Linked DNA regions of Homo sapiens: regions 1, 2, 3 and 5 are each linked to region 4. The links come from fine-mapping of genetic effects on gene expression. A gene starts in region 4. Each other region holds a variant in brackets. All regions are shown on one strand. Distances are between the middles of the regions.

Region 1 (5,107 bases), 250 kb before region 4:
AGTAGAGCTGGTGGTGGAGGTTATGGTTGGGTGAAGGTGATGGAGATGGTGAAGAAGGTGGTGAAGGTGGTGGAGGAATTGGTGGTGAATCCAAGGTGGAGGGAGAAGAGTTGGTTGGGGCGATGGAGGGAGAAGAGTTGGTTGGGGCGATGGAGGGAGAAGAGTTGGTTGGGGCGATGGAGGGAGAAGAGTTGGTTGGGGCGATGGAGGGAGAAGAGTTGGTTGGGGCGATGGAGGTAGAAGAGTTGGTTGGGGCGATGGAGGGAGAAGAGTTGGTTGGGGCGATGGAGGTAGAAGAGTTGGTTGGGGCGATGGAGGTAGAAGAGTTGGTTGGGGCGATGGAGGTAGAAGAGTTGGTTGGGGCGATGGAGGTAGAAGAGTTGGTTGGGGCGATGGAGGTAGAAGAGTTGGTTGGGGCGATGGAGGTAGAAGAGTTGGTTGGGGCGATGGAGGTAGAAGAGTTGGTTGGGGCGATGGAGGTAGAAGAGTTGGTTGGGGCGATGGAGGTAGAAGAGTTGGTTGGGGCGATGGAGGTAGAAGAGTTGGTTGGGGCGATGGAGGTAGAAGAGTTGGTTGGGGCGATGGAGGTAGAAGAGTTGGTTGGGGCGATGGAGGTAGAAGAGTTGGTTGGGGCGATGGAGGGAGAAGAGTTGGTTGGGGCGATGGAGGTAGAAGAGTTGGTTGGGGCGATGGAGGTAATAGAGGTAGTGAATGTCGTGGCTAAGAAGGTGAAAGAGGTAGTGGAGGTGGGTGGGAAGGTGGCTGAGATAGTAGAGGAGGTTGAGGTGGTAGAAGTAAGATAGTGGCGGAGGTGGCCGGGGAGATGTATTTGAGGTGATGGAGAAGGTTGTGGAGTGAGTGTAAGTGGAGATGGAAATACCTGTAGTGATAGCCCAAAGTGATAGGGTTTGTGGAGTCATCTACAAATATAAATATCCACTCTTAAGTCAGAGTGAAACAAGTGCACCAGCACGCGGGAGAACAAGCAGCCATATGTACTACTTAAAACAATTTTCTGCTTAGGACTTTCAGATATTTTTCTCACTAGTTTAATGCATTTTTGCCTTGAATCTAAAATTGTTTTTGTTTTCTTAGATGAGTCAGAGAGCAGTTGATGCCCATTCATTCTCACTGTAAATGCTTTCTATCCGCCAGACTGGACCAAGCATGGGCAATCAAAAATGAAAGAGACTTAGTTTCTGTCTTTGTTGAAGACACAGACCCATAAGTGATAATTATAACACAGTGACGTTAAATGCAATGACGGAGATGTAAACAGCTATGGAGGATGATAGACAACCAAGGTGGGGAGTGTTAGGGACAGAGGAAACTTACTGGAACAGGTAATACCTTAAGGATGAGAGAACTGGGGATTAGTTGGGTGAAGGGGAAGATGAGCATTATAGGCAAAAGTAGGAAGTAGGAAACAGTTTACAGTAAACATGTAGCACAGTAACTAGTTCTCTAACTTTAACTTTTCCTGCTGTCTGCCGGGTATGTTCAGTTCCTTGCATGATTTTGGAATTTAGAATCAGATTTGAAAGCATTCATGGTTGCAAAAAGTAAATTGTAAGTGTGCAGTCAGGGTCTTTTAGTGCTTTTTTTTTTTTTTTTTTTTGAGATGGAGTCTTGCTTTGTTGCCCAGGCTGGAGTGCAATGGCGCTGTCTCGGCTCACTGCAACCTCTGCCTCCTGGGTTCAAGTGGTTCTCCTGCCTCAGCCTCCCGAGTAGCTGGACTACAGTCTCGTGCCACCACACCCAGCTAATTTTTGTGTTTTTAGTAGAGATGGGGTTTCGCCACATTGGCCAGGCTGGTCTCGAACTCCTGACCTCGTGATCGGCCCGCCTTGGCCTCCCAAAGTGCTAGGATTACAGGCATGAGCCATTGTGCCTGGCTGATCTTTTGGTACTTAATGGTGAGATGTTCAAAAGTATAGACAATAAGGGAGAATCTCACAGTTGGTGCCACCAAATTCTTTAAACTCACCCGTTCTTGTAGCTAGAGAAGTGAGTGGGAAGACAGTTCAAAAGGATAGACAATAAAGGTGAATCTCACAGTTGGTGCCACCAAATTCTTTAACCTCACCCATTCTCGTAACTAAAGTGAGTGGGAAGATAGAATCTGAATAATTTTTCCTATCAGTGGAAGCAAGACAAACAGTATTTAAGCTGGGATGGGTGGGTGGGTATGCAGTATCTGTGCAGAAGATGAGTTGCTCACTCAGAGAAGACCTGATATTCAAGGAAAAGTCAGCCAAAAACGTGAGTCACTCATTAGCCTCTTTAAAAGGTGGAACATGCTAAGGCGGGGAAGGTAAACAGACTCTTGCTATGTTGGATTAAGATGTACCCTTAG[A/G]TATAACTCTTCTCTGGAAATGAAAAAAATTCTCTAAAAAATATAGCACACATATCCTTGACCCAATTAAAATATAGCATTTCAAAAAGGAAGCAGATAGCACATGGTTTGTCAAATAAATGACTCAATAGAAACGCATGAAATATATTTGAATAGAGATTGCCAAATGTTGTTTTTTAAATAAGGAACTCATTAAAGTCTATGAAACAGACTTCAGAAATTGATTTCCTGGAGTGAATACCACAAATGATTCTCCAGAGCCCACGAAGAGGAAGTTTTCTAACCTATTTCTCTGGACCACAAGTTGTCCTGCAAAGGGTGAGAAGAGAGGGATGTCACTGTTTTTCTAGTTCGTGGTGCCTCCATGGTGAACTGAGATGCTCAGGGAGGCTAGATAGTGGCTTGATGCTGTTTATGCAGAATTTCCAACTCAGAGAAGGCCTCCCACCTCCATCTGGAAGACTTAGTATCTTTGCCCACCTACCTTTGAAAGCAGGATATGGATTGCACAGGAGAAAATATTGGAAATTGACCACTGAACCACATATTTAAATTCATTCCTGGCTCTTTCTTTCCAAATAGCAATTGAGTTTGATTATTGTGATTCGGCCATCTGCATCTCATGTTTATAATTGTCCACACTGCCACTGTCTGAGATTTTCTCAATTAATATTATTAAGGGGTGGATATGTGATTTTCTGGATGGTTCAATTTACTCTTCTGTCTTGTTTTGATAAGAAAGTGGCTACCTGCAAGCACTAAGGGGCTTTTATCGGCATTTCGAATTTTTGCTTGTGAGCAAATAACAGGAGAACAGAAATACTCTCCTGGTTGCCTTTCAGAGACAGAATTCTGTTTAATTTGCAAAACCATTTATAAATTCTCAGTATTAACTCAGCCTTTCTTGCCTGCCTTACAAAAGCAGCTCTTAAGAGATAAAGTGTTTGGGACCCAGTGGGAAAGATTCCAAGCTCATACTGCCAAATCTCCTGAGTTATCCTGACTCCTATCTGAGATTTGGGGATTTTTCTGTAAGAAGGAGGAGTGTGGGATTGGCCCCCCTCTGGAACATAGATGAGAGAGTAAATTGACTTGTCTGTTTTTCAAAGATAATTGTGGGTTGTGAAACTAAGCTAAGTAGGTAGCAAAATCCTACGCAGATTACAAAAGAGATTTTCCATCTCTGCATTACCACACGTAATTTTAGGCCCTGAAGCAATGTCTGGTGGGCCAGTTGAACGTGCTAGGGCAATTGTCTAATGACTCTGACAGAAGTGGTGGCTGGGATTAGATCATGAGTGATAGATTCCTAGAACTGGAAGGGACTTTAAAGATTTTCTAGGCAAACCCTTTTGCTTTCCAGTTGAGGAAACTGAGGCCCAGAGAAGCTTAGCTATTTCAAGTGGTTACCATGGTAATCCTGATTGCTAGCACTGTGCTTTGATGTGGGGTGACCCTCAACTAGACCTCAAATAATGGCTCTGCTGCCTTCACTGTGGATGTTCCCCAGAACACATGTCATGGGTGACACTGGGACTCCTCACAGCTAGTCCTGCTACTCAAAGATCACAAAGCATCTTGCTCTCATTTGTTTTGGCCACACCTCAGCTAAGGGGGCAATATTTTCTCTATTAATGGACTCACAATATGTGGCTCTGCCAGTAGTCAGAGGGATTCTCAGTGGGGACTTGGAGAGATGGGCCTGCACTTGTGCCTTCCATCCCAAACTCCCTCTTTCCCTGGGATTCTTTCTCAAGCTGAGTGAAAGAGCATCTTGGCTCTGGGATTTCTCCTTTGCTGAAAGGTTGAAAACACTGGTGGAGGTCTTGGTCAAGTTAGGCAAATTCTCTGCACTTTTGTTTCTTATCTGTAAAATAGGAAAAATAATAATTCACGAGGCTTGTTGCCAAACATAGTCCTGAGTGCAAGGAAGGCAGCTGATAAATGTTTATTCTCTCCTTTGCCTTTTATAATAAAATATCTGAATATTGCTGGTTTCTGATTAGTCTAAAGAAAGTTATTTAGTTTTGTCTATTTATGAAGATAATACCTCTTCCTTGTAGAAAATGAAACAATGCTGAAAATCGTGAAATCCCCTGAACAGTTACTATCTAGAGATAACTCTTCATACTTTTGCAACATTCTTTCAGTCATCTTTCTACGCATCTTTGTTTATATTTGTGTTCAAATCTATAATTTTACATAAAATGAAATCATAGTAGAAACACTCTTTTGCAATCTACCTTGTTCACTCAAGAGGTCAGTTCAAAGAAAGCACTAATAGATATTTTCTGCCAGATGTTTGTCTCCGCTGTAGGACAGAATGAACAACACAATCTCATCTCACAGATTGAAACTTCACTAAGACCTATTTGGCACTCTTCTCTCCAAATGTCCCTTTCCTCTATCTCCTCACTAGAGAGAGAATATGTCACTGGACATATACAATGCAATTTCTGGAGTGTGCGAAAGATTTGCCAACCAGGGAAGTTTTCTGCTTTTATTTACCCTAACAAAAGCCAGGATAAATAAATGATGTCTACTCTATAGTCTCTCCTGCATAGTCCTTTGAATCCCCTTTGTTGGATCCTTTTTTTATTTTCTGTGGGACAAACCTCCAGGGAAGGCACAGATTTTTGTGTACTGTAGCTCACTGGGTCTTACTGACCTGTAGCTATGGGTGGTCATTGTTTTGTTTAGACTGATCTTCTTGGCGGCCTAGTGTCTCATCCTTGTCAGACAGATTGACAT
Region 2 (5,107 bases), 260 kb before region 4:
CAGAATAAATCGGATCATCTGATTTTCAAATTGCTGGATCTATTGTTTCAGAAATAGAGGATGTAAATAATTTCAGTGCAATCTCCTGGATCTGGACCTCTCTCATCCAGAACTGTTATCAGCATTAGCATAATTTATGGTGCTATCTAATAATGAAATCACTGAACACTGATTGTACAGCTTCTTAAAGCTATAATTATTGCTCATTAGGAATGGATTTCATATTGTTTGCTCCTGGCACATAACAAGTTATTGAAAGAAAAAAGTTGTCAGTAGAAGTGGGAAACCAGGAAAGGCACTTTTTTTTTGTTCCTGAATGTTATCTCTGATGAATCTGTCTGAGATTTTGTCTTTAATTATAACGGAGAACAACTGGCCACATCATTAATTATCATATTTCTTTTTTAAGGAAAATTTTAGCTTCACATCAGATGCCTTTTTCAGTCTATGAGGTAGTAAGTGCTCTGTAAATGTTTGTTGACTGAATGACTGTGCAGGGAAAGCAATGAATGAAGACAAAAGCCACAATTTTGGCAAGTTAAACTCTGAGCAATGTCCAGCTCATACCAAACATTAACATTTCTTCCTTTCTTCCTTTCTTCCTTTCTGCCCGCCCGCCCGCCTGCCCGCCTGCCTGCCTGCCTTTCTGTCTGTCTTTATTTCTCTCTTTCTTTCTTTCTGAGACAAGGTCTCACTCTGTCATCCAGGCTGGAGTGCAGTGGCGCAATCTTGGCTCATTGCAACCTCCACCTCCTTGGCTCAAGCGATTCTCCTGCCTCAGCCTCCCGAGTAGCTGGGACCACAGGTGCACACCACCCCACTTGGCTAATTTTTGTATTTTTTTTTTTTTTGTAGAGATGGGGTTTCACCATTTTGGCCAGGCTGGTCTTGAACTCCTGAGCTCCAAGCGATCCACCTGCCTCAGCCTGCCAAAGTGCTGGGATTACAGGTGTGAGTCACCACACCTGGCCCTCCAAGAGGTTAGAGTTGGCAGTTTTTTAGGGGCATGAATCTGAAAAAAATAATCTTAGCTTATTCATCTCAGAACATCTTAAAATGCATTTTCTAAAATTACAGAGCAATACTTGCTTTTTCACTGTAGAAGATAAAAACAATACATGTATAGACTGAGTAAAATATGGGAGCCCCTTTCAGGTACTCTGATTGATCCTCTTCCTGAGGTAATGGCTATTCTTAGTACAGTATATGTATCCTTTAAGCCCTCATGTTTCTGGAAATATTGAGAATTCATTGTCTGGGATAATGCAGGAAAAAAAAAAAAGGTCTGCTTTTGTTGGCTAACAATAATTTCCGGATGGACTATGGGATTGGAGAAAGCTTGGTTTTAAATCTGATGATGGAGGTTTAGTTAGTGATTTCTATGAGATACAATGGTTGGGGAGAATTACACATTTCAGCATGGGAAGGAGGAGTAACCATTATACGGTTTGCAAAATAGGGGTCACTGTCAATGTTTATGATTCTAGGAATGGGGAAGGGGGCTTATCAAAAAAGACTTAAGTTCATTGTGAACAGTGCCTTTAGCTTGTGATGGCATCGACCCCAATGGAAGGTAGCTTGGCTTTGAGATTGGTACAATGTATTTGGCCTTTATAGGTTGAATGTGACTTCTGTGTTTGTCAATTAACCCAGCCTGGTGATTTATCCAGGGCTAGACCAGATTTTGTATGCTGGTATTTTCCTACACAGTTCTAGTTTCCTTGGGTCTTTTGGCATGGAACCTGAAGGGGCTGAAGAAATCACGTGAGTATTTCTTTAATAGATTCGTTTCCTTACTTGTTGATAACTGCTCACTTTTCCTTAAATATCCTCTTATCTAGGGCCTTCTAGTCCCTGAGAGTACAGGGAAAATGTCAGATATGCAGAGATAAAGAAAATCTTATTCTTTTACTGGAATTTTTCAAACTTTAGTAAAACTGTAGAAATGTTTAAATTGCCTTCCAATTTCTGAAGGAAATTGGTTTCCTTTAACGCTTAACGAGATAAACTGCAATTCGATTCAAGTCATTTTTCTGCCTCTCCTTGTTGACAATCTGAGCTCCGTTTTTTTGGTTTCCTCCTGCTTTCTGATTGACTTCAAGATTGCATCTAATCTTTTTATTCTATCTTGCACGAATGCAGCCTGCAATGTGTTGTGACAAGGAGCCAGACCTCCTATTAGCATATATTTATACCTTGCCGCACGCAAAGTGGTGCTTGGGGATTATTAAACCAGGCTGGAGCTCTGAAGGGATATAAATGGCATCAGATTCGCCCCCTCCCCACAAAAAAGCCCTCCATCTCAACTGTCTATCCACGCGGAGATCTAATTGTTTGGGGAAAGGGACAAATGCGGGGAGCTGAAAGAACAGTTGTGGATGAAGTTACTGTGATGGAGGAATGATCAGATAATTGCAGGCATGGGAGACGCAAGTGATGCTCATTGTCCTCGAAGGGCCTGGAGACTCCTTGGAGGAATTTTAAGGCCACACTGTGAATCAGTAGATAATATGATCAAGTTAATCTGCTGATGAAGTACTGGAATGTGGACAGTTCTGGACAGACATCTGGGAATGAAGAGCTAGGTGAGAGGTGTTTATGATTTGTGGGATTCAGAATATGAATTCACAGTCCTAGATATCAGGGGATGAAGATGGGGACTAGGATTCCAAAACAGGGTCCCTTCTGAGATGACTTGAGGAAACAGGCAATATTGCTTCAGGTTCTAGTTGTTTTTCCAATAAATAGAAATCAACAGAGCAAAGCCTGAACAACATTGTAACACATGCCTGTGTTCTTTGGTGTTCCAGTTTCTTTCAGTGGGACTCTTGGGGCTCCCAGCTCCCAGGGTTTATGAATCACTAACCTCTATCGCCTATCAAAACTG[G/A]TGATCAACTGATATTAGTCATTCACACATGGGTTTGACCTAATTTCCACTCATGCTAACCATCCCACAGCACTTCTATTTTAAGCTTGTTTTCTCTAATTGCAGAAAGACTGGCTTTGTCTCCACTGAAAGAAATTTCCAGCATTAGTAAAAAGCAAAAGAGACAATTTGGGGGAAGGGAAGCCTTTTTAGTGATTTGTATGCTAGGGAATTGGTCCAGAAGAGAAAGTACTTTTCCTCTCTTGACTCTCTAGTAGGTCTCGTACCCCTAGGATGATGAGTCCCAGTGACTTTCTTGGGAATTGCTAAGTTTTGAGAAATTTTTCGTTATGACATAGTATCTCACAGCCTTGAATACATCTGCCTTTTCCAACTGTCTGCGAGCACTCACAGGGTAGGGATGGTGTCTCATTCATCTGTATTTTTCCATTGATCGTTGGTGTTCAATATACAGTTTTTGAGCTGCACGGCATAGGAAACACAGGTGTCACTATTCTACACCTTTACCTGTTTCAGCCTTTGTGATAGGAAGTCAGACCCAGGATGCCATTTGGGTTGTATGCGGGGAGTATATTGGGGTGGGCTTCACTTCACTTTGTTTATTTCTCCAGGTACTAGGAGTGGTGAGCTGACCCTCTCTGGGGTCCTCTCTAAGGGCCCAGGACAGCTGTCCTAGCCCGTGCCTGCTTTTCACTAGGCAGACTCCATTGCCATCTGTCTTTCTCTGCCCAGGTTGTACTTGCCCCTTATTTGGGGCTTTCCTTTCCACTCTGGTAAGATTAAGGATTAACTTAGGCAGAGGGAAGAGTCAGAGAAGAGCAAAGAAACTCCTTTAGGCTTGGCCTAATTAGGTCTGAGTCACTTAAGAAAAGGGAAACCACAGAGTGTTCAGAAATTACTACTTTGCTTTCCTTTGTATACGTCTCCCTTGGGGATGTCCTTTGGGGATCCCACGGGCTGCAAGGTATCTGGGCTAAAGTTGGATTTAGGAAAATGAAACACTTGATTTGACTATGGAAAATGCATGTTTCCAGGCAGGAGAGGAAAGATTAGGTAGGTAACTAGATAGGCTAGAGTTCTTTTGCTTATGAGTGTGTTTTGTGGAAATTACAAACTTGAAATGTGTGTGAGGAATAAGTAACAACCAATTTTACAGTCACGTTCAAACATCTAACTCCTTAGACATTTGGGAAGTGGTGTGGGGACTGATCAGAAGCTGCCGAGAAGACACTTAGATTCTTGTTCAGGGGAGGGATGTAGATATTGATAAATGTTAGACATCGTTAGGAAAAATGAGCATAATATAAGTATAGGTTAAAGAGTTAGGGCAACCACCACAACAATAACTATAGAATTATGACATTTAAATCAGCAGAATAAAATGGAGACTATTTAAAGAAAACCAAGAAAGAGAAAAGAAAGAAATAAAAGGAAAACATGGCAAATAGCACTAAATAAGATAGCAAAGTGTCAAAGTAACAGTAATTATAGTAGATACAAGTGAGTTAATGTGAACAACCAACAGACAGAAAGAGTTTTTAGACCCATGATCTGGACAGATGTTATTTATAAGAACCATAAATTTTAAATACAAAAGGATATAGACCGATTGAAAATAAAGGAATGGAAAAAAATACACCAGTTATGTCTGAAGCAAAGAAATCATAGGTAGCACTTAATATCAGAGCAGATAGAATTTAAGGTGAAAAACCTAATAAGGGACAAGAAACATTACATGTTGGAGATATGACACCATCATCATGAACATATGTGCTGCTAACAGATCTCAAAATATCAAAAGCAACAACTGACTTAAGAGAAAAAAATAGATCAATACTTATGGTTAGAATAAAAACAAACCTTTTTGGAAAATGAAAAAGCAAATATATAAAATATATCTGAAAAGAGATCAAACAAATACATAAAATATGTGATTTTCAGGCCTGTGTAGGTATAAGTAAAAGAGGAAGTTTAATTCAAAGGCTCAGCTTCATCTAGACTATGTTCTTTGAATATGGTGTGATAAAACTAGAAATTAATGACAAAAATGAAAGCTAACTAAATAAACAATGTGAATGTGGTAAACTAAAAATTATATCTAAAAATTTCCTAAGGTTTTATATATAAAGACGATTTCAAAAAATGTGTTTTCAGTATGAGGCCTGTGTCACTTCATATGTCTTTTCGTCCAGTGTCTGGTGAATTCATTTTGTGGTATAG
Region 3 (5,107 bases), 67 kb before region 4:
CTTATTTCAAGCAATTCAGCAAATATTCAGGCCTTAATCATTTCAGTTATTGGAGGACAGTGCCATCTGGAAAGTGAACTCTCTGGAACTTACCCTCAAGTTTCCCTGATAGAAAGACGTTCTAGGAATTGTCTTTGTCTTTGGAAATTCCTAGAATTAGCTTTGCTTTATGTTCAATATAGCTAATTTCCCAGTCTCATGGCAGACACTCAGAAAATGAACAACATGTTTAAATTGTTGCAAAGATGAAAGCAACAAAGATGAAAACAAGGATTATTACTAAAGAACCGGTTTTAATTTAAATTTCTGAAGAAATTTTACAAAGTGCAGGAACACGTGAGGTAAGCTGGCTCCTTGAGTTTGCAGTTCCTTGGAGAGCTGATGCTGAAAGCTCATAGCCTTCCTAGTGCCAGGTGGGATTCTGTGGATTTTTTTCACGTTACTTTTATGAGACAAACCCATGGATGTCAACCATGTGACACAATATCCATGACTTTCCTGGCTGTACAAATAGTTCTCTAATTTGATGCTAATAATAGGACATCTTTTTTCCTTGGGAAATACTGTTTTTTAGGCTTAACACTTCAGGCACACCCCTCCCCCTGGGAAAAAAAAAAAAAAAACCCAGTTCAATTTAATAATGATTTTTGTCTGCCTATGTTTATTATATCTGGACCCTGATAGTACATTTATCTTCTGTCATGGAGTTGAGACAGTATCTATTCAGCTGGTTTTCCAGCCCCAAACTTAAGTAGGATCCTTTACCTGCAAAACATGGGGCTGGCCTTGCGTTTAAAAGCAGTACTCATGTTTCAGTTTCCAATTTGAAACTTAGGAACTGCTCTTTCCAGACTTGAAAGTTTTCCTCCTGACCAGCTATTATATACCGCCTCCTGGGACTTTAATACAGATCTGTCATTCCTTCTAGACCTCGAACTCCTTAAGAACAAGGACAATGTCTCACTTATCTTTGTATTCCATAGCTCATTACGTAAAGGAGGTCTTTAAGAATTATTTGCAAAATCTGTATTGCATTCTTATCCTAAAAGTTTGTAAACTGGACCATCAAATGTAGATTTCCCTGTGCAAGGAGTGAAAAACAGCAAGTACCATGTATGCAAGTCTCAGAACTTGACTTCTCATAATTATTTTTTAAAACGAAGGCAAACCAGGCTGGGCACGGTGGCTCACACCACGCCCAGCCTGGTTTGCACAGGCAAATAGGGTAAGTAGGTTGCTTAAAGTTGTCTAGAAATTAAGTGATGGTTCAGATTCAAGCCATTTGGCTCTAGATCCACATTCATAATCCCTTTGCCATCTATTCTTAGCTTACCTTGTTCAATTTTCTATCCTGAGTCCCTCTAATAAGTTCTCAGCTTCTGTTTTTTCTTTAAAATCGGCACTCATCTCTGATTTATCACCTCTCTTCTGTCCCCTCGCCCCTATTCTCTCCCTCCATTTTCCCTTCTTCTCTCCCTTCTAATTCCGTTCGTGATGAGAACCACATTGTGTACCTGAAATTTATATTTCAAGCAGCTTTCTATCAGCAACCAGGAGCTTCCTGTACACGTTGCAACTTTAGAGAACACAATGCAGATGAGAATTATAAATCTCTAAGTGCGCATGTTCTTCCTTTTATGATGGGTTAAAAGACAGTTTAAAAATCACCTCCCATTTTGAGCTTTGAATCTGAGCTGAGAAGGATAGTAAAAGCAATATAAAGAAAAGGAAATCAACTTCAAAACCGGCCCCCCGCTTTTCCCTGTGAGAAGGCCACTACAAATTGTGGAGATGCTTCTCAAATGCAATTAGATTCTGCCGCTGCCTGCCGCGTCTCTCCACATTGCATCACTGTTCTCGAAATCGCTGAAGCCTCTCTTGGGACACTAGATAATCTGAAGAAAGAATAGAGTGTTCAGGCAACACAAGTTCTACAGAGAACTAAGGCACACCGATTTGCATTTCTGGGTCAGCATGATTTCACTTTCATTTAACCCTTGTACTGACCCTTGTTTTCCAACGCGTTGGCTCTTTCTGCCGTCTGAGACTGTGTGATGTGCTGAAGCCAAGAAGGTAAGTGTCCCTGGCAACCCGAAGCCTGCAAACCTCTCTCCAAGCCCCTCTTCAAGCTTCCCACCATCATTAAGGTCCTTTCAGTGAGGAATTGGCCAACATTTTAAGTGTCTCTGGATGCAGGTTTTATTCACGTTTAATAAGGTAGTTTTGTGTGTTAATGGAAAATGAAATGAATATTAGAAATCACATATTCAGATATGCTTGTGGCTGCCAGAGTTTTGCATTT[C/A]CTGCGTGGTTGTTCATCTTTAATGTAATGAGAATAGTAACGGAGAACAACGGATGTTATATTCTCTTTCTCTCTCTCTCTCTGGTAGGAGTCATGCTGAGAATCCCTTGAAAACCCACAGTGTGTCAGAAAGACAGACATGACATATATTTCTCTCGTCTTATTCACAGTATAATTTCCATTAAAAGGGAGCAAAGACCCCCAACAAGACTTAATTGCTTGCAACTTAACAGGTGTAGGTCATTAGTTGTTTATGTGCAATGAGGTCTACTTGGCTAGAAGAACCTTGTGTAAAAGTAAAGGTGCATTGCAAAATTTAAAGTGCTGGATAAATGCTAGCTATGAACCCAATATTAAAATAATTGAGATGACATGTTGATTAATTATTTGCCCAAAAGAGGTTTACCTCAATCAGTAAGAATAATTTTATTGCTTTTTTTCTTAATTATAAAAGTAATAGCCGGGTGTGGTGTCTCACACCTGTAATCCCAGCACTTTGGGAGGCCGAGGTAGGCAGATCACTTGAGTTCAAGAGTTTGAAACCAGCCTGGCCAACATGGTGAAAGCCGATCTCTACTAAAAATACAAAACAATTAGCCAGGCATGGTGGTGCACGCCTGTAATCTCAGCTACTTGGGAGGCTGAGGCAGGAGAACTGCTAGAACCTGGGAGGTGGAGGTTGCAGTGAGCTGAGATTGCGCCACTGCACTCCAGCCTGGGCGATAGAGCAAGACTCCATGTCAAAAAAAAAAAAAAAGAAAATTAATAGTTGTATGATATGTGAATGCCATCTCAACAAAGCTGTTTTTTTATGAAATTATAGAAAAGACAGGTAAACAATGGGAATAAAATCAAAATCACCAATAATCCCAGTTCCCAGAGATAAACCACCAATAGCATGATTTGTTTTACTATAATTTTCACTGTGTAAATGCAAAACTGAAGTGATGCAATAGTGTTGAAATCTCCCTTTCCTTTTCTTTCTTCCTTTCTTTCTTTCTTTCTTTCTTTCTTTCTTTCTTTCTTTCTTTCTTTCTTTCTTTCTTTCTCTTTCTTCTTTCTTTCTTTCTTTCTTTCTCTCTCTCTCTCTTTCTTTCTTTTTTTGAGACATGATCTCACTCTGTCACCCAGGCTAGAGTGCAGTGGCACAATTGTGGCTCACTGCAACCTTGAACTCCTGGGCTTATGCTACCCTCCCACCTCAGCCTCCCAAAGTGCTGAGATTACAGGTGCATGCCACTATGCCTGGCTCCCTTTTCATTTAATGTATTATAAACATTAAATATTCCTCTGCCTCCGCGTAGTGTTCTGCTGTATAAATGTTTTATAACATACTTAAGCAACCCTCTATTTTTGGATATCTAGGCTGTCTCCAAGTTTTTGATAATGTTTTTGATAGCTGTCTAATGAGCATCCTTGTAGCTATATCTTTGAGCATATCTGTGATTATTTCTGAATAAATTTCTAGATATCTAGTCATTGAATCAAAGAATATGCACCCATCTAAGGCTTTAAAACACACATGACTCTGTGTCTGTGTGTGTGTGAGTGTGTGTGTATCACATAGGAAATAAATATTAGAAATCACATATTCAGATATGCTTATGGCTGCCAGAGTTTTGCGCTTCCTGGTTGTTGTTCATCCTTAATGTAATGAGAATAGTAATGGGGAACAACGGATGTTATATTCTCTCTCTCTGGTATGAGGTATGCTGGGAATTCCATGAAGACCATTTCTTCATGGTCCATTCCATTTCTTCATTCCATGAAGAACCTTCAGGAACATTCTTCCGTAGATTCTTAATGAAGCTAAACATTGTTTCAAATGATTATTGTCCACTAAATATAAATAAATATAAATATATTTATAATATTTATTATGTATCTAGATAAATACATATACATATATTTGTATATGTTCATATAAATAATACTTATATAATATATGTGTATATATAATAAATTTGAATCAATACCTTTTAGAAGGTATATATGTAGATGTATATATACACACACGCACTCACACTACATTTATACTAGCAGTGTATATCCTTGCACTTATTTTTATATACATTCCCCAACATTAAGTATTTAAAATTTTTCTTTCCAATTGCTCTAGTGAAAAATGACATCTTATACTTGTTATAATTTGTACTCCTTAGATTCTTAATGAAGTTTAATGTTGTTTCAAATGATTATTGGCCATTTCAAAATTATTTATGTCCTTTGACATAATTTTTTTCTTGTTTATCTTTTCATTAATTTGTAAGATTTTAAACAATTGAATATGGCTATTAGTTCTTTGTTATCTTTTTTATTTGAGTTAAACAAAAAACTCCACTGAAATGAAAGTGATGCACATTTTTCTTTAAAAGAAGAGCAATTCAATTTTAACTTTAAAAGAAGTTAAAATCAGTTACAGGTAAACAAAGCGTACCCCTGACCGCATACACCTGGTGTGTATATAGGTTTAACTTTGTACATTCCTGAGTTGCTTTCTGGAAAACACTTCCAAATGAAAAGCCAGATACCATCATCTTTACAAGTAACTGTGATGTTATTTTGAGATAAATTATTACTTTAAGTTAAACAAAGGAAAATTACCATTTTTGAGCATTAGCCAATCTTATAATCTCCCTTTCCAAAGAAGCTTAATTCAAACTATTTTTAAAGGTTAGTTTATGCTTTCTTTTAATTCAGCGGCTTCATGGGTGCCATATTTTTTCTCCATTTTAGCAGTAATCTAAATTGAGACAAACATAGGTCAGAATTTTGAACTCAAAGATAAATAAAAGGAATTCCAAA
Region 4 (5,107 bases):
TACACAGTCCCCAAAGCTGCAAAATGCACGACCCAATGCCAACCAGGGTCTACATTCAGGCTGTCTTAGACCAGGTTTCTCCTGGTCACCCCATTATCCATAGTGCCCCTGGAGGAGATCACTGCAGGAGGCAAAGCAGTTCCTTCTGTGCAGGGTTCAAGCAGAAGTAGAGAGGAGGGCTTTCCTCCTTTTTGGTACTGCACTCCATTTCACTCCTTGCTGCAATTTTTTTTTTTTAAGGCTAAATTTCACTTTTGTCACCCAGGCAAGAGTGCAGTGGCATAATCTCAGCTCACTGCAACCTCCACCTGCTGGGTTCAAGTGATTCTCTTGCCTCAGCCTCCCGAGTAGCTGGGATTACAGATGCCTGCCACCATGTGTGGCTAATTTTTGTATTTTTAGTTGAGGCGGGGTTTCACCACGTTGGCCAGGCTGGTCTCAAACTCCTGACCTCAGGTGATCTGCCCACCTCGGCCTCCCAAAGTGCTGGGATTACAGGTGTGAGCCACTGTGCCTGGCCCTTTGCTGCAATTTAACAGTCCTCCAGTTTTCACTTTATGTCTCTGGCTCCCACCACTCAAATGTCCACTGCTCAGATAGACAAAGCTGAGAGACAAATGCCCTGTAGAACTCCTAAGTTCTCCCTCCACTGGCCTCTAAGCTTTTGTGCTGGGTCAGGCTAATTTGCTTGACTCTTTTCCAGTGACTTCTCTTTGGGGAGGCTCCCCAGCCCCTTTTGCAAATAGATCCTTCCAGATAAGCCCAGACATACTGAATCCCAAGTGGAGGCTGCTATGGCTCAGGGTCAGACATTGAGTTCCCAGTAACTATTTATTAGCCATTCACTATGTGCTAAACACTGGGGTTCCAAGGATGATGGTCTCCTCTCATCATGGAGCTGCCTTGGGAATTTAGACAAGAGCTCTTTGAGCAGTGATGGCCTTTACCCCAAGGAGGGGTACCTCCTGCTCAAAGGTAATACCAAAGGTGCCAACTAATCACTGACTTGGCAGAGAACCTCTCTCAATATAACTAGAAGTTTCATCAAAGTTTCTTAAGCACTCCACCATTGACTGCTCTCCTTCACCATCCCCCAGGTTCTTACTCAACCACGTGCCTCTGTCTGCTTCTTTCCAACTTGTAGCAGCACCTTTCCTCTTCTATTCTTTGTTCTTGTCCTGGATGTCATTCCCTTTCTCCCCTCAGAGGCAGAGAGGAGAGGGCTGCTGGAGGAAGAAGAAAAGTGAAAAAGCTGTAGAAATTTGCTTCCACAATAAACAATACCCGAAAAACCTGTACATTCTTTTCTTCAACTTAAATGAAGAACCCAAGTGTGCACTCATATGAAGTAAAAAAGGTGCAAATAGGCCGGGCACGGTGGCTCACGCCTGTAATCCGAGCACTTTGGGAGGGCGAGGCGGGCGGATCACCTGAGGTCGGGAGTTCGAGACCAGTCTGACCAATGTGGAGAAACCTCACCTCTACTAAAAATACAAAATTAGCCAGGCATGGTGGCGGGCGCCTGTAATCCCAGCTACTTGGGAGCCTGAGGCAGGAGAATTGCTTGAACCTGGGATGCGGAGGTTGTGGTGAGCAGAGATCACACCACTGCACTCCAGCCCAGGCAACAAGAGCAAAACTCCGTCTCAGAATAAATAAATAAAAAAAATACAGTTCCTTTTTTTTTTTTTTTAAAGAAGTACAAATAGCTTTGCATGCAATTTATGAATTTTTTCCTGATTCTGATCGCTGGTGTTCAGTAGGAAAGGGAATCAAAACTCCATAAAGCAAATCAGCTTATCTGTAGATAACCAAAGTCTTCTCAGTGGTGTCTGTCCCTCTTGTGAAAGTACAGCTGCTTGTGGGAAAAGTGAGAGACCTAGAATACAGTGTATCTTTTGGGGGACATACCTCTGACTGTTACAGAAGCATGTGATTAATTTGGAAGGTAGAATTTCGGAACATCATATTTTAATAGGAAGCTTGAAAGGTAAGTAGAGGAAAACATCAAGCAAAGCAAAATACACCATTTGCAGAGTTCAATCAGATATGACTCAGCATTTCTTCATTGTGCTCATCCCCAGCTCCTCAAGCACATAGTGCCTTGCACACAGTAGGGGCTGAGGGAAATATTCGTTAATGCATTAATTTTAGTTAAAACTAGATACCTCCTAATCTCTCAGTGGCTTGAACTGGGTCAAACAGCAGAGGAATGGGGTAAATAAGGAAAGACACCCGGTAAAGGTAGAACAAGACCACTGCTTAATAAATATATTCGTTTTTGGGGTTATTATTTTGCTCAAAAGTCTATGAGGTGACCAACCCAGAATGTGGCAGTTAATTCTATTTACATTTTCAGTGTGGGATCCAGGTTTTCAAGTTTGTTATGTGATTTTATGCAAAACAATATGCAAATCCAGCGCATTCTAAAAATTCAGTCTGCTTTCCAGCCGCTCCCCTGGTCACAAACAACTAAGGTTGGCGCCGGGCTCTCTGGGATCCTTCGCGGAGGGGCAGAGCAGGCGGGGGTGACTGGCAGCGGGGCGGGGGAAAGGGCGGTCCCGGAGGCGGTCCCGGGGCGGAGCCCGTGACGCGCGGAGTCGGCCGGCTTAAGGGCCGGACCTCAGCGTCTCCCGGAGTCTGGCCGCAGTCGCGGCAGTGGTGGCTTCCCATCCCCAAAAGGCGCCCTCCGACTCCTTGCGCCGCACTGCTCGCCGGGCCAGTCCGGAAACGGGTCGTGGAGCTCCGCACCACTCCCGCTGGTTCCCGAAGGCAGATCCCTTCTCCCGAGAGTTGCGAGAAACTTTCCCTTGTCCCCGACGCTGCAGCGGCTCGGGTACCGTGGCAGCCGCAGGTTTCTGAACCCCGGGCCACGCTCCCCGCGCCTCGGCTTCGCGCTCGTGTAGATCGTTCCCTCTCTGGTTGCACGCTGGGGATCCCGGACCTCGATTCTGCGGGCGAGATGCCCCTGGGACACATCATGAGGCTGGACCTGGAGAAAATTGCCCTGGAGTACATCGTGCCCTGTCTGCACGAGGTGGGCTTCTGCTACCTGGACAACTTCCTGGGCGAGGTGGTGGGCGACTGCGTCCTGGAGCGCGTCAAGCAGCTGCACTGCACCGGGGCCCTGCGGGACGGCCAGCTGGCGGGGCCGCGCGCCGGCGTCTCCAAGCGACACCTGCGGGGCGACCAGATCACGTGGATCGGGGGCAACGAGGAGGGCTGCGAGGCCATCAGCTTCCTCCTGTCCCTCATCGACAGGCTGGTCCTCTACTGCGGGAGCCGGCTGGGCAAATACTACGTCAAGGAGAGGTCTAAGGTAGGACGCGCTCGGCGCCCTGCCGCAGCTGCTCCCGCGGGGACGGGAGGCACTCGGAGTCCGTTGTATGTCGACTTCCCAGGGCCGTAAGCGAACTTTGTTTTTTAACCAAGAAGTCAGCCTGGTTTGTCTCTACTCGCTGCTTCCCCCCACCCCTCGCCCCAGCTCCTCTGAGCGAAAGTCAACGTTAAGGGGCTCAGGTGAACCATGATGATGACCTTCTGTTGACTTTGAAATATTGGCTCTTGTGGGTGACAAAAGCCAGACAAGCTGTGGCTGTGGTCCGATTTTAAGACGAGGTTCTCAAAGATCCAAAGGAGGGAAAGGGTATTGGAAACACTGTGTATCATCTGAGACACACGTGTCCTCATGATCTTAAATGCCTACTTTAAAGCCACCTAATACTGCCCTTCATTGTGGTCAGAAGAGATTTCTACAAAAGCACTCAGAATTCTGGAGGCAGTTGTGATTTTGCCATGTGGCAGTTGGTTTGTGGAGTTGGGCAGGTGTGAAAGGGTAAAACTCCACTTCTGAATGCTGCTTCTGCCCCCTGGGACCCAGCACATTGTTAGACCATCTTCTTGACTGAAAATTCTCTCCTGATGCTGAGCCCTGCACCACCACCTTCCTTTTCCTAACTATGAATTGATGGCAAAGTCCACTCAAAACAACCAGTTAAGTGCTCACGAGAGAGTAGTCAAGCACCTCCAGAAAGAAACCGGGTTTTTGTTCACATAGCAGGAAGTGACTCCCTGGGTGGTAATTTATCTTGGAAACACAGGTAGATTGGCAGAAAAACGGGAACATGTAGGTACCGCGATGTTGGTGCATGTCCATTACTTTGGGATAGGCTTTCTCAGTCTTTCCTCAAATGATAGTTGAGCCAGTTTTCCAGTGGCAATTCTGAGTGACTTGCGCTTGTCTTATGGTGTGGTCAAGGGACGTTCAGAACTACGGAAAACTTTTACTGAAACAGCGAAGCAGAGTATACCGGCATGAGAGGGAAGATGAACACTCACCTATGTACCACTCTTTGACAATAAATATAGTATTTCTCAAATCAGTCTCAAGACTGATCCTGTCTCAGAACAGACCATTGTTCTCTCATTTCTCTAATACGCTGAGAGGAACACTCTGAATAAAGGCTAAGTGGTGAGGATTGGAAACGTGTGGGAGTGAAGGGGTGGAGGTGGATGAGTGCAGTGGGGAGTCACAGTTTGCCGTACAACTTCCAAGCCAAGAGGCCATGAATAGAATATCTGAAAGCATCGTTATTAATGCACCCAAGTAAAGTAAATCTTAGAAGATACTGCTTTCTAAATTTTACTTTGGGGAAAAAAATTCCGCGTGAGCTGAACTCTGTAGGAGATTGATGCTAAAGTGTTTCTTTATTCTTCTTCCATCATGTTGGTGGTGGATTAGTCACTCGTCTTTGACTAGTTTGATTTTTGCATTAAATGACCTTGCTGTCTTCTGTGGTGGAGGTGTGTCGGGGAGGGGAAGGGTCAGCCTCAGTGTTGCTGAGATGCTGGTAGTTTCTACCTGGAAGAGCAGACGGCTTCTTATTGGGTTTTTAAATGTTTCTTGTAAATTTAGGTGTTAGGAGTTTTTCTTCATCATTCTAGGAGCAGAATTTGCTCTGAGGGAGGTCAGGATTAATTGGTATGGAAAGAGGCCACTAACATTGAAAGTTAAATATTTTTATTTAGCTTTGACTTAATGGATAGGGATAGGGTTTCAGACTAGAATTTAACTCAAATGGAAGGAAAAACACTGTGTAAGTTAGGG
Region 5 (5,107 bases), 100 kb before region 4:
TCTCCAGCACTTAAAAAGCAACCCCTGACATTTCCCTAACAGGGATACATTGCAAATTTCTGTTTTGGTTTGTGTTCCCTTGCCTGGTAAATTAGTAGACTCAGCTGTGATGAAACAACAACAACGACAACAAACCTCTAGGCTTATTCTTTGACAAATGAATATTGCCAAAATGAAATACATAAAAGTTGTAGCAATCTACAGTTCTACCATCAGTTTATATCTCACTGCTTTTTTGGTGCAATGTGTCTTGACCTTTGTTATTTAATGGATTAAAATGTGGGATAATTTTTTGCCTATTAAATTAGGTAGACTGACCTTTTCTTTTTTGAGACAGAGTTCTACTCTCGTTGCCCAGGCTGGAGTGCGATGGTACAATCTCGGCTCACCACAATCTCTGCCCCCTGGGTTCAAGTGATTCTCCTGCCTCAGCCTCCCAAATAGCTGGGATTACAGGCACACACCACCACACTCAGCTAATTTTGTATTTTCAGTAGAGATGGGGTTTCTCCATGTTGGTCAGGCTGGTCTCAAACTCGCGACCTCAGGTGATCCGCCCACCTCGGCCTCCCAAAGTGCTGAGATTACAGGAGTGAGCCACTGCGCCCAGCTGACTGAACTTTTAAATACAAATGTGATGATTTACATTTTTTCTTATCTATTGAGATCTTAGCGATTTTCTTATTAGTCTGTATGACCCTTTTATACACTAAGAATATTGCAGAGTAAATTCTTCATAATACTTTTAAAGTGAATCCCTGCCAGGAAGATCTTCCTGCAACACATAATTTTGATGTATTAAATTTTTGAAGCAATTGTGCATTTAAATTACTGCTGGAGGTGTTCTAAGATGGAAGGGGTAGTTTCTAGCTACTGGAAATATCTAAGTAGAGACTGTTTGATCCCTTGGGAGGGATTGAAACATATGATGACAGGTTGGACCAGTGCTCTTTCGGTTCCCTTACAACCTTGAGATTTTGTGATTCCATAACCTGTCCAAAAATAAAAGGCAATAAGGTTTTTTTTGCGGGGGGGGGGGGTGGGGTGGGGTGGTAATTTTCTTTCTATTAATACTCTGTAAGATTGACAGGCTCCTACAGAAGTCTAACAACTAAGAGAACCAAAGAATGATTTTCTGAAGCTACTGCCTTTATTCACACTTTTAAAAAGCCCAGGGTGGTTGAAGAGTGTGAATGTGCTTGGCCTTGCAGCTGTGTCCTGGCCCTTTAGAATTTGTTATCAAAACAAAACATGCATTTCCACTGGAAGTTTTTAGAACATTGATTTTGCAAACTTTTTCTAATTTCACTTTTGGTTTCTTCTGTGTAGTAAAATCTGTAAACTTATATTTTGCATATTTATTCTTTGTCAATTATCTGTTGTGTAGATTATTACGTATTTACATACACACAGCAATGCATACTTGTACACGAAAACCATGTATACACTATTTTATGGATAATTTAAGGGATTTTTTTTCAAGTGACTGCTTTCAGTTATGTGCTAACTTTGGAAACTACCACCAACATAAAAATCTGCTCTACTGAGGTATCCACCTAGATTTTTATTGTGGAAGTGCTTAATTCCTGTGTCTTGACATTTAGCATAAATGACATAGAGCTCATTTTACATCTATTGTGTAATGTGAGAGCTGTGTTCTGACAGCTCCTGTATTTCCCTTATTGGAATGTTCATTGTTCATTTGTAACTGCATATTTAATCTTTAGTCTCCTATATAGGCTACAAGTTTTGGGGGGCCATGGGGAGCAAGGGGACCTGATCCTCTGGTATCCCCAGAGTTTAGTGCTTGGCATTCTATAAAATCTCTGTTGAATTGAATTGAATGTAATAAATTACATGTAAAAACTAGATAGGAAAAAGCGCAAGAGGCTGTGGACTTAGTGTGAGGTCAGAAAGCTGGCTGAAAAACTAAGCGATCTGAGCACCTCCTAGAAGCTGGGCACTTAGCTGGCCTATCACCTGCCTTATCTTACTGAATCCTCACAACTTTGTTTTGAGAGTTTTTGTTTCTGTTTTGTTTTTATAGAAGAGGAATCCATGGTTCAGAAGGGTCAATGAACTTAGTCAACTGGTAAATGGTAGGACTGGGAGTTGCTCTGAGTTTATGGTGGCTTGAAAATCCAGGCTCTTTTCTCTTGAGTAGGATGCCTGCAGTATGTAGTCTAGTCTTGATTGGGGCAGAGTTGGGGAGGGAAGATGTGGCTTTAGGAAAGGACCTGGCTCCAT[T/C]AACTTAGCTGAATTTTGTCTTTGTAATCGCTCCTCTCCACACCCCTTCCACTTCTCCATGCCCTCAGCTTTACTCCCTTCACCCCGTCAAGAGTCCAATGCTCTCATGATGCCTCCCCTCCTTACAGTGAGAGCTTCTGACCTTCTTTTCTAAACAAGCCTCAAACTCTGTCCTCCCCATCCAGCTATAGTCCTTAGTATTCTACTTCTATTTAATCTAATAAACTCTTCTGGGGAGAAAAATGGGAAATTGTTGTAATGTTTCCCATCCTTCTCATGTGCTTTTTTTTTTTTCTTTTCTTTTCTTTTTCTTTCTTTCTTTCTTTTTTTTTTTTTTTTTTTTGAGACAGAATCTTGCTCTGTCACCCAGACTGGAGTGCAGTGGCACAATCTCAGTTCGAGTAATTCTTGTGCCTCAGCCTCCCAAGTAGCTGGGATTACAGGCATGCACCACCAAGCCTGGCTAATTTATGTATTTTTAGTAGAGATGGGGTTTCACCATGTTGCCCAGACTGGTCTTGAACTCTTGGCCTCAAGTAATCCACCAGCCTCAGCCTCCCAAAGTGCTAGGAAATCAGGCTTGAGCCACCGTGCCTGACCTCACGTGCTCTTTTTAAATACAGATGCTGGTTGCAGGACTTTTAAGTTTGCTGGGGGAGCATTTGGGCAACAGGATAATTTGTCTCTTCAAATAAAATCATAGCAGGCAGCTACTTACTATCAAGGCACAAATGACTCTCAGATCTCAGGGACAATAATAAGGGCTAGCATTTCATTCATTGAATACATTCACGTGAAGGGCTACTGTGTGCTGGTGACTGTTCTAGGTGCTTTGTGTATATTAATTCGGTTAAATCCTTCTAATATCTCAATGACGTAGGTGCTAATGTTGCTCATACAGTTGGTGAGGGGAGAGTTGGGGCTGGGAAAGGGGCGAAGATAAAAAGGGAAGCTTTCAACAGTGGCTTGGGAATTTGACTGGAGATGAAACAAAAAATCAGGTTAGCCAGTGAACTGTTTCTAAATCCATTAAATAAAGACCTAGTTTAGACTAATGAGAGTAAGGAAGAATTTGTGTGAGTGCTTGCGCCAAGCGGGCAGCTGCCAATTGTTGAAGCAGGGCCTGCTCAAGTGTGTGCCCCAAGGAGCAGGAGGACCACTGGAGGGATCTGCTGCTCTGTGGTTCATTACAGGTAGTTTATTATTGGGTGGAACTGGCCGGAAGTTGAGCCAGCCAGGAGGGAGTGCAGAAGAGGAGTCTGCCAAGGGATATTGTGGGGGAAGATTCCAGGCTGGGAGAGTGAGCCAGATGGAGGGAGGAAATGAGCTTTTCCTGCTGGGTGGATTCCATCCACATGGAAATCCAAGTATGGGACTCTGAGAGTGGGAGGGTTGCAGGAGAGGGCCTGGTTTTGACTGGGAATCCCAAAGGCAGGACTGCTCCTAAAGTTAGTGGGTGTGGATTCCTGGGAAGTCTCCTCATCATTACAAAGCATTTACTGTGTTCTAAGCTGTGTTAATTCTCATGAAGGAGTGTTTCTGGAAATGAAATTTAGAAGGTGTGAGAGAATCATTTTCTGGGTGAGTGGCTGAAGCAGGCAGCATACTATGATCAACAAGGTGATCAACTGTCCTGATTTGCCTGGGACTGTCCTAACTTTTGCAATAAAATTCAGTCCCCCCTTCAGAGTACCCAGGACTCGGCTCATATGCCAGATCCCTGTAAAGGCCTTTCCTGACCATTATCTGAGATACTATCCTACCCTGTCCCCAGTGCTCACATCCTGTTCCCTTCAGAAGTACTTTCTCCATAACACTTACCCTTCCTTGCAGTCATCTTGCTTATTTGTTTATTGTCTCTTATCCAAAACTAGAATATAAGCTCCAGGAAGGCAGGGACTTTGGCTTTTCACTGTTGTATTCCCAGGGCTTAGAACAGGGCCAGGCACACAGAAGGTGCTCATTATATGGTTGTTGAGTGAGTAATTTTTTGTTTTTTTTTTAGTTTCAAGCACTGTGCCCAGCTCTGGATATACAATGGTGAGAAAAATCAGAAATGGTCTTTGTACTCATGAAGCATAGTGGAGGAGAAATACATTAATAACATATTTCCACCTACACAAGTAAAATTACACCTGGGATGAAGGAACAGCTGAAGAGGGGCCTGAAGGAGAGGTGCTGATGCTATGAGAAGATATGATGCTGGGTGGAGTCGGGGCCCCGGGGCCAGTGAAGGCTTGTCTAAGGAAGTAATGATTGAGTTGAGTCTAAAGGATGAAGAAGAAAAGGCTTTCTAGGAAGCAGGAACTGCACATGCAAATGCCCTGCAGCAGGATGGACCAGGAGTGTTTGGAATCCACAAACAGGCCCTGTGGTTGCAGTGCCCAGAGCAAGATGACTCATGACGCTGCGGGGAAAGGCCGAGGGGCAGGCACAGCCAGGCCACTCAGAACCTTGTACATTGGAGACCTTGCTGAAGATTTGGCTGTTTTTCCTAAGAACAGTGAGAAATCACTGAAGGGTTTAAAGTGTGTGTGTGTTGGCTGGGGGTGGTGGGGGGCAATCAGTCTTTGACGTGACTATTCCGTAGACTACCAGGGTTCCTCCATCCAAGTGGCTAAATGGTTAAAATAGTTAAAATTAATTAGGGAAAGGACAATGAAAATATTAACAATTATAAGAGGTAGCTCTTATAGTCTTAGTTCTCTTTTGTCTGCTGATGGAATAAATGTGGTATCAAAGACAGAAGAGTGGGGAGCAAAATTTATGGCCAAATAGATTTTTGAGGAATCTTTCTAAAAGTTGGTACTCAATAAAGAACATAAACTGCAAAGCCAAAGTATTTAAAGCACTCTTCTAG

Which allele goes with the higher level. Positions count from the first base shown, and alleles are read on the strand shown. Sizes are in standard deviations (SD) of each study's normalised expression. Not every link is listed here.
For the expression in unexposed skin of the gene that starts at base 2,641 in region 4, allele G in region 1 goes with a lower level than allele A (small effect, 0.35 SD a copy in GTEx).

Evidence for each region. PIP is the estimated chance that this variant, and not a neighbour inherited with it, causes the effect.
Region 1: its variant is fine-mapped to the expression of EGLN3 in unexposed skin (GTEx, PIP above 0.99). The same link has a PIP of 0.9 or more in sun-exposed skin.
Region 2: its variant is fine-mapped to the expression of EGLN3 in whole blood (TOPMed, PIP above 0.99).
Region 3: its variant is fine-mapped to the expression of EGLN3 in whole blood (INTERVAL, PIP 0.93).
Region 5: its variant is fine-mapped to the expression of EGLN3 in whole blood (INTERVAL, PIP 0.95).

What each region holds. Positions count from the first base shown.
Region 1 is chr14:34,200,814-34,205,920 of GRCh38, reverse strand. LOC102724945 (a long non-coding RNA gene) reads left to right here and starts at 2,193. Exons shown (of 9, transcript XR_001750942.2): 1 at 2,193-2,262. The variant A/G (reference allele first, on the strand shown) is at 2,357.
Region 2 is chr14:34,210,570-34,215,676 of GRCh38, reverse strand. No RefSeq gene overlaps it. Among named protein-coding and RNA genes, the nearest start is that of EGLN3-AS1, 170 kb to the right of the region's middle. The variant G/A (reference allele first, on the strand shown) is at 2,888.
Region 3 is chr14:34,015,567-34,020,673 of GRCh38, reverse strand. All of the region lies in intron 5 of LOC102724945 (a long non-coding RNA gene), which reads left to right. Among named protein-coding and RNA genes, the nearest start is that of EGLN3-AS1, 22 kb to the left of the region's middle. The variant C/A (reference allele first, on the strand shown) is at 2,303.
Region 4 is chr14:33,948,608-33,953,714 of GRCh38, reverse strand. It overlaps EGLN3 (egl-9 family hypoxia inducible factor 3), which reads left to right and starts at 2,641. Exons shown (of 5, transcript NM_022073.4): 1 at 2,641-3,319. The coding sequence starts at 2,963. RefSeq lists a silencer at 2,504-2,583 and an enhancer at 2,704-2,873.
Region 5 is chr14:34,052,293-34,057,399 of GRCh38, reverse strand. The region is part of intron 2 of EGLN3-AS1 (EGLN3 antisense RNA 1); the gene reads right to left. The region is part of intron 5 of LOC102724945 (a long non-coding RNA gene); the gene reads left to right. Among named protein-coding and RNA genes, the nearest start is that of EGLN3-AS1, 15 kb to the right of the region's middle. RefSeq lists an enhancer at 2,067-2,116. The variant T/C (reference allele first, on the strand shown) is at 2,248.